Linked DNA regions of Homo sapiens. The protein of the gene in region 2 interacts with the protein of the main gene of each other region in a pairwise test. Each region holds a gene or a part of one and is shown on either strand. Other genes may lie near its edges.

What was found. The genes of interacting proteins can lie anywhere in the genome.
Region 1: the proteins of TOMM34 (region 2) and ATP6V1D interact in a two-hybrid assay, tested with the Homo sapiens proteins (one study listed by BioGRID).

The regions. Positions count from the first base shown.
Region 1 is NC_000014.9:67,346,305-67,349,804, reverse strand, and holds part of ATP6V1D (V-type proton ATPase subunit D), read left to right. Parts: intron 1-700; coding exon 701-768; intron 769-2,351; coding exon 2,352-2,396; intron 2,397-3,500. UniProt on the Homo sapiens protein: Subunit of the V1 complex of vacuolar(H+)-ATPase (V-ATPase), a multisubunit enzyme composed of a peripheral complex (V1) that hydrolyzes ATP and a membrane integral complex (V0) that translocates protons.
Region 2 is NC_000020.11:44,946,898-44,950,397, reverse strand, and holds part of TOMM34 (mitochondrial import receptor subunit TOM34), read left to right. Parts: intron 1-1,520; coding exon 1,521-1,668; intron 1,669-3,500. UniProt on the Homo sapiens protein: Plays a role in the import of cytosolically synthesized preproteins into mitochondria. Binds the mature portion of precursor proteins. Interacts with cellular components, and possesses weak ATPase activity.

The DNA.
Region 1 (3,500 bases), on a different chromosome or scaffold from region 2:
TAGCAGAGGGTGGAGATCAATCAATAGTGTATAAGTGGTATGTGAGTGTTTTAGGGTGGTTATGGGGAAGATACTTTCTATAATATTTATTTTTGTTTTGTTTTGAGATTGGGTTATGAGACTGGCTAATTTTTGTATTTTTGAGTTTCACCACATTGCCCAGGCTGGTTTTGAACTCCTGGCCTCAAACAATCCTCCTGCCTCGGCCTCCCAAAGTGCCAGGATTACAGGCGTGAGCTATCGCACCCTGCCAGGAAGGCACTTTCTGGTAACATTTGAGAAGTCACACAAAGCCAGATGGAACATAGTTTCCAGGGTAAAGGAATTGAACGCCAGCTTAACCAATTCAATAGCAAACCTAGAAAGGAGTTTTCTCTATCTCACACTAGCAGAAGAATCCTTAAAGTTATATCCATGTAGCACACCTCTGACTGAAAACATAAGCAATCCACGAACTTTAAAATCATTCTTTGTTCTTTTCTTACTGCTAATGTTTTGAATATTGTTCATTCTCTGCTTTCAGAGGCCCTCCTCTAGCAGTAATGACTTTTCTCCCTTTTTGGAAAAAGGACAGTTATCAAAACATACTTAATTGTGACATCTCACTCTTGGTCTCATTTAATGTTAAAACTATCCAGTGGGTCCCTGTAGGTTTATTTCTGAAGAGTCTGCTAAATAAAGTCTTTCTCTTTTTCTGCAGCACTACAGTTATCCAAAATGTCAATAAAGCGCAAGTGAAGATTCGAGCGAAGAAAGATAATGTAGCAGGTAACGTTTCAACCTTTTAGAAACCCTTTGGGGAGAAAAGAGGTGACATTTTAAAATTAACCTGTTTATACAGCAAGATCTTAATGTCCTAGTTTCTTCCTTCTACTTAGAACAAGTTGATTGGCTTTACATGTTAAAATCATTAACAACCAGGTTTCTAATTACTCAGGATAACTTGACTTTTGTATAGAAGTGAACACTTAAGAAGGCAGGTTCCGGCTGGGCACGGTGGCTCATGCCTGTAATCCCAGCACTTTGGGAGGCCGAGGTGGGCGAATCACAAGGTCAGGAGTTCGAGACCAGCCTGGCCAACATGGTGAAACCCCATCTCTACTAATAATACAAAAATTAGCCAGGTTTGGTGGCACGCGCCTGTAGCCCCAGCTACTTGGGAGGCTGAGGCAGGAGAATCGCTTGAACCCGGGAAGCGGAGGTTCCAGTGAGCCGAGATTGCACCACTGCACTCCAGCCTGGGTGACAGAGCAAGACTCTGTCTAAAAATAAAAAATAAAAAAATAAAGAAGTCAGGTTCCACTGGATGTGGTGGCTCACACCTGTAATCCCAGCACTTTGGGAGGCTGAGGTGGGCGGATCACAAGGTCAGGAGTTCGAGACCAGCCTGGCCAACATGGTGAAACCCCATCTTTACCAAAGAATACAAAAATTAGGCCGGGTGTGATGGCTCACACCTGTAATCCCAGTGCTTTGGGAAGCCAAGGTGGGCGGATCGCCTGAGGTCGGGAGTTCGAGACCAGCCTAATATGGAGAAATCCTGTCTCTACTAAAAATACAAAATAAGCCAGACGTGGTAGCGCATGCCTGTAATCCCAGCTACTTGAGAGGCTGAGGCAGGAGACTCACTTGGACCCAGGAGGCAGAGGTTGTGGTGAGCCGAGATTGCGCCATTGTACTCCAGCCCAGGCAACAAGAGCGAAACTCATCTTTAAAAAAAAAAAAAAATTAGCTGGGCATGGCATGTGCCTGTTGTCCCAGCTACTCAGGAGGCTGAGGTGGGAGAATCACTTGACCCCAGGAGGCGGTGGTTGCAGTGAGCTGAAGACCACACCACTGCACTGCAGCCTGGGCGACAGAGTGAGACTCTGTCTCAAAAAAAAAAAAAGAAGGCAAGTTCCTAAATTCATTAATTGAAACCAATTACAATTCCATACTTAAGCTCTTGATTTTTGAGTTTGATGAAAAAGAAACACAGAAAACAGTGATTAAGAAACAGAATTTAGGCCAGGCGCGGTGGCTCATACCTGTAATCCCAGCACTTTGGGAGGTTTAGGCGGGTGGATCACCTGAGGTCGGAAGTTCAAGACCAACCTTACCAACATGGAGAAACCCCGTGTCTACTAAAAATACAAAATTAGCCGGGTGTGGTGGTGCATGCCTGTAATCCCACCTATTCAGGAGGCTGACCAGGAGAATTGCTTGAACCTGGGAGGCAGAGGTTGCGGTGAGGCGAGATCACGCCATTGCATTCCAGCCTCGGCGACAAGAGCAAAACTCCGTCTCAGAAAAAAAAAAAAAAGAGAGAACTTAAAGGTTTATGAATCCATGTATGCTTCTGTGTTTAACAGGTGTTACTTTGCCAGTATTTGAACATTACCATGAAGGAACTGACAGTAAGTGTGAAACTTTTTGTATTACTTTGTGTCTCTGGGATTTCCTGTTTCCTCTTTAAATGAACTAAGTTCTGGAAAATGGTGCTAGATGTTGAGAGGTTCCTGAGTTAGAAATCCTCTTATTTGATATAGTCAGGACAATAGTTGATCAGTTAATCAAAAGGTCTTAAGGCCGGGCACAATGGCTCATGCCTGTAATACTGGCACTTTGGGAGGCTGAGGCAGGCAAATCTCCATCTCTACAAAAAATATAAAAAATCAGCCAGGTGTGGTGGCACGTGCCTGTAGTTTCAGCTACTTCCAGGGCTGAGGAGGGAGGATTGCTTGAGCTGGGGAGGTAGTTGCAGCGAGTTCTGATCACGCCACTGCACTCCAGCCTGGGCTACAGAGCAAAACCTTGTCTCAAAAAAGAAAAAGGTCTTATGCTAGGAAGTCATAAAACATTATACATATCTTAAAATATTTCAATATTTTATCAGAAATATATCAATGTAGAATCACTTGCTATTTAAAAAATATAAGGCCTTTTGAATATGAATTCACTGATTAGACTTCTGTGTTGTTTTTCTGCATATCCTACACCCACAATGCACTGCTTATAATTCCCAGTTTGGGTCTCTTTAAAGTCAAATAAGATCTTAGACACTGATGCAACCTGAATGCTGATTCTTTCTAGATTTTTATAGCCCACTTCCACTTTTTAAATAACTGTCTTATTCATTCCATTCCTAGTTTGACAGCATATTTTCTTTCCAAAGTAAAGTATTAACTTTTTTCATAGAAACAATATTCTTGGCCAGGCACAGTGGCTCACACCTGCAATCCCAGCACTTTGGGAGGCTGAGGCAGGTGGATCACCTTAGCCCAGGAGTTTGAGACCAGCCTGGGCAACATGGTGAAACCCCGTCTCCACCCAAAAAGTTACAAAAATTAGCTGGGCCTGGTGGCATGCGCCTGTGGTCCCAGCTACTCGGGAGGCCGAGGTGGGAGGATTGCTTGAGCCTGAGAAGTGGAGCTTACAGTGAGCTGAGATCGCACCACTGCACTCCAGCCTGGGTGGCAGAGTGAGACCCCATCTCAATAAATAAATAAACAAATAATATT
Region 2 (3,500 bases):
TAGAGTCTTAGTGTTTGAGGACTTCAGGATAGAAACTGACTTAAGTGCATGAGGGAGTCGGGGAAAGACTCAGAAGGGGTGGCAATGGAGGTGGAGCCTTGAGCTGGACCTTGAAGAAGGTCATCAGGTGGGAAGGAAGGAGAATCCTTGGCAGAGACAGTGGAGAGAGTTGGAGAATGAAAGTGCATGGGGGGAACAGTAGGAATAAGGATGACTGCAGAGTGGTGTGTTGCAGGGTGCCAGTGAAGCTGAAGCCCTACTTCAAGAGAAACCTGTGTGCATGTGCACAGGGAGATGTACCCACAAATGTTCGTAGAAGACTGTAATAGCAAAAAACAACTGGAGATAACCCAGATCTCCATAAATGGGAGAATGGACAATTCAGCTTTGGTATTGCAGCAATGAAAATGAAGGAGCTGCAGGTCTGTGCATCAACACAGATGAATCTCAGAAATATAACATTAAGGGGAAAAAGAAAAACCAAGTCATAAAAGAATACACAGACTTATTCTTCTGTATGAAGTTCAAAAACAAAGTAAACAGCAAATGATCTGTGGGTACTGTTGTATATAGTTATACTGTTTAAAAAGGTGGGGAAGAAGCACAGAATTGGGGATAATAGTTTCCTCCAGCAGTGGATTGAATTGAGGAAGGTCCCCCAGGACTTCAAAGGTCCTAGTTATGTTCTTTTTCTTAAACCAGGCAATGAATTCAGGGTGTAAACCTATAATCTTACCCTGGTCATAAATATTTAGTATTTTATAAAGATAGTTTTAAAAATTTTTGAAAAGCAGATGATATGGAGCTGAGGCTGGAATAATTAATTGGGGCCAAGCAGTGAAGGGCCTGAACACCAAGTTGAGCAGCTTGGATTTCACCATGTTCCCTCTGCTTCCTCTCCTTGAAGGCTGGAGCAGAGCTGCATGTGTTAGATGAGGGAGGATACTCACAGGCTCAGCCCAAACCAGAAATGAGGAATAGCAGGCTCTTCTCCCCTTTTCTCATAGCCCAGAAGCTATACCTTTTCTTTACCAGATATTTGTTTATTAGTATTTATTTACTTATTGTCCTGCTTTAAGTTTATAGTGTGTTCCGTACTTTCTTACATACTCTCAGATTTGACCCTGAAAATAGCCATCTGTGGAATTAGTATTGCCCTATTTTATTGGTGAGGAAATTGAGGTCCAAAAGTTAGGTAGGTCACACAAGATCTTCCAGCTACCAAGAGGCAGTGCCAAGGCTAGAACCTGGGTTGCTTTTTATCATTTATATATTTTTATGTGCATGCAAAAATGTTTTTATATCAGGATTCCCCAACTTCTTGATGAAAAACTGTTGAATTGCCCAGAAGCTATTAATTGGGGGAAGTCATTAATCAGGAAGGATGATTTACAGCAGGGGAGGAAATCTCTGGGAGAGAGGATTGTAGTCAGTTTGGAAGGGACGATGCTGAAGAGACCTCACTGATCTCAGTTGGGTGCTGCTCCATGGTTTTTTTCCTCTTCTGAATTTGTATCTAGTGCCTTCTGCTGGGGATGTGGAGAAAGCCAGAGTTCTGAAGGAAGAAGGCAATGAGCTTGTAAAGAAGGGAAACCATAAGAAAGCTATTGAGAAGTACAGTGAAAGCCTCTTGTGTAGTAACCTGGAATCTGCCACGTACAGCAACAGGTATCTCCTATACAGCTGCTGGCCTGGGGCATTTCAGGACATTTGTTCCATAGTCTTCTCTTGGACTGCAATGGGCCCTTCATCCCTAGCATTTAGTCAAGTATGTTATGGCTGAAAACATGCATCCACGTTGTGAGCTAGCCATGACCAGTGGCATTCATTCTCTCAAAAGGGTAGAAACTGAGGGATGCCAAATGGTAGCCTGGGCTTTGTTGGCCCCTGTCCCCAGAATTTTCATAAGCATGCAATGTAACTAAAAGCAGTGTGCCTGCTCTGCAAACACAACCCTAACACAAGTCTCTTAGCCTGTCCACCCCACCACGCTACGCTGCTCCCTACCCTTCTCCAAGACCCTCCTGTTAGAAATTCTGGCACCATTTCTGTCTGAGAGTACTGGCCCAGAAGCCAAAATGTGAAGTAACCATTGCCTGGCATGAGAGCAGGAAGGATGGGTACAGTCTAGCCTGAAAGGTTAGACTTGTGGGCCTGTAGAAAGTCCTGCACCAGGAGCTGCCGTCAGTGACCACTGACTGAGAACCTGGGAGCCAGGGTGCGGTCCCTTCACTGTGTAGGAGTGATTGTTCTCCAACAATGCTCGTATAGGTGGTCTTTCTGTTTTAGTGTTTAGAAAATTGAGGCTCAGAGAAGGAAGGGTTTTGCTTTAAACTCAGCCAGCCAGTAAATGTTGGCACAAGAATTGGAATCTGACTTCAACAAGATCTTCCTGTTACTTTTACTCTCAGAAGCTTGAAACATTCAGCAAGAGACCATATCAAAACCAAATGCTTAGTATAAAACATTATAAAATGTTAGAAATCTGTTTATCCTTCCCTACCAGCATACACATATCACTCTCTAGTTCAAAAATCTTGGATCTAATATAGACACATTGTTCCTTATTCCAAACTCTTGAGATAAAATGTGTTTTCCAGCCACGGTGGCTCAATGCCTGTAATCCCAACACTTTGGGAGGCTGAGGCTCCGGGAGGATCACTTGAGGTCAGGAGTTTGAGACCAGCCTGGCCAACACGGCAAAACCCCATCTCTACTAAAAATACAAAAAATCAGCTGGGCGCTGTGGCACATGCCTGTGATCTCAGCTACTCAGGAGGCTGAGGCAGGAGAATCACTTGAACCCAGGAGGCAGAGGTTACAGTGAGCCAAGATTGTGCCACTGCACTCCAGCCTGGGTGACAGAGCGAGACTCTGTCACAAAAAAAAAAGAAGTGTTTTCCATTTTAGTGAGGTAATATGGTCTGAATTATGTAACACCCCAGCAGTGTCTGGGGCAGCTTGCAGAAGTTAATTATTAGTATTTCTGCCAGTGAAACTTGAAAATTCCATGTTCACATGGGGTGGAATAGAGAAACTAAATAGCTTCATGTCAGTTCAGATCAGGTTTTGCTGCCCAATGAGTTGGAAAGAGAACTTGTAGTTTTAAAGCTTATATTTTGGAATTTTGCACCTGTGGTTTTATGTGGTTTTATTGCTGATTGGACCAGAGGGGCCACAATTTGCCAGGCTAATTTGAAAAAGAAGCCTGCAGCCTATTTGTTCCATATTTGTGTGGCATCTTCTAACTCCTCTATCTCTGGACCCTCTTTCACATTGCTTACCTTATGCTGCTGGACACCTCCATTAACTCATTTTTCTGGATCATTACCATATTTGGAGCTGTGTTTTGTCTTGTTTAGATACTGTTCTTCATGCAGGTGTCTGTGCCACACTGTTTTAATTGCTTTTGCTTTATAATATCTTATAGGGCTGGTCTTTTCTTCATTCTTCTTAATCAGAGCATTCCTAGTATTTTCCCATGTTTGTTCTTCTAGCTA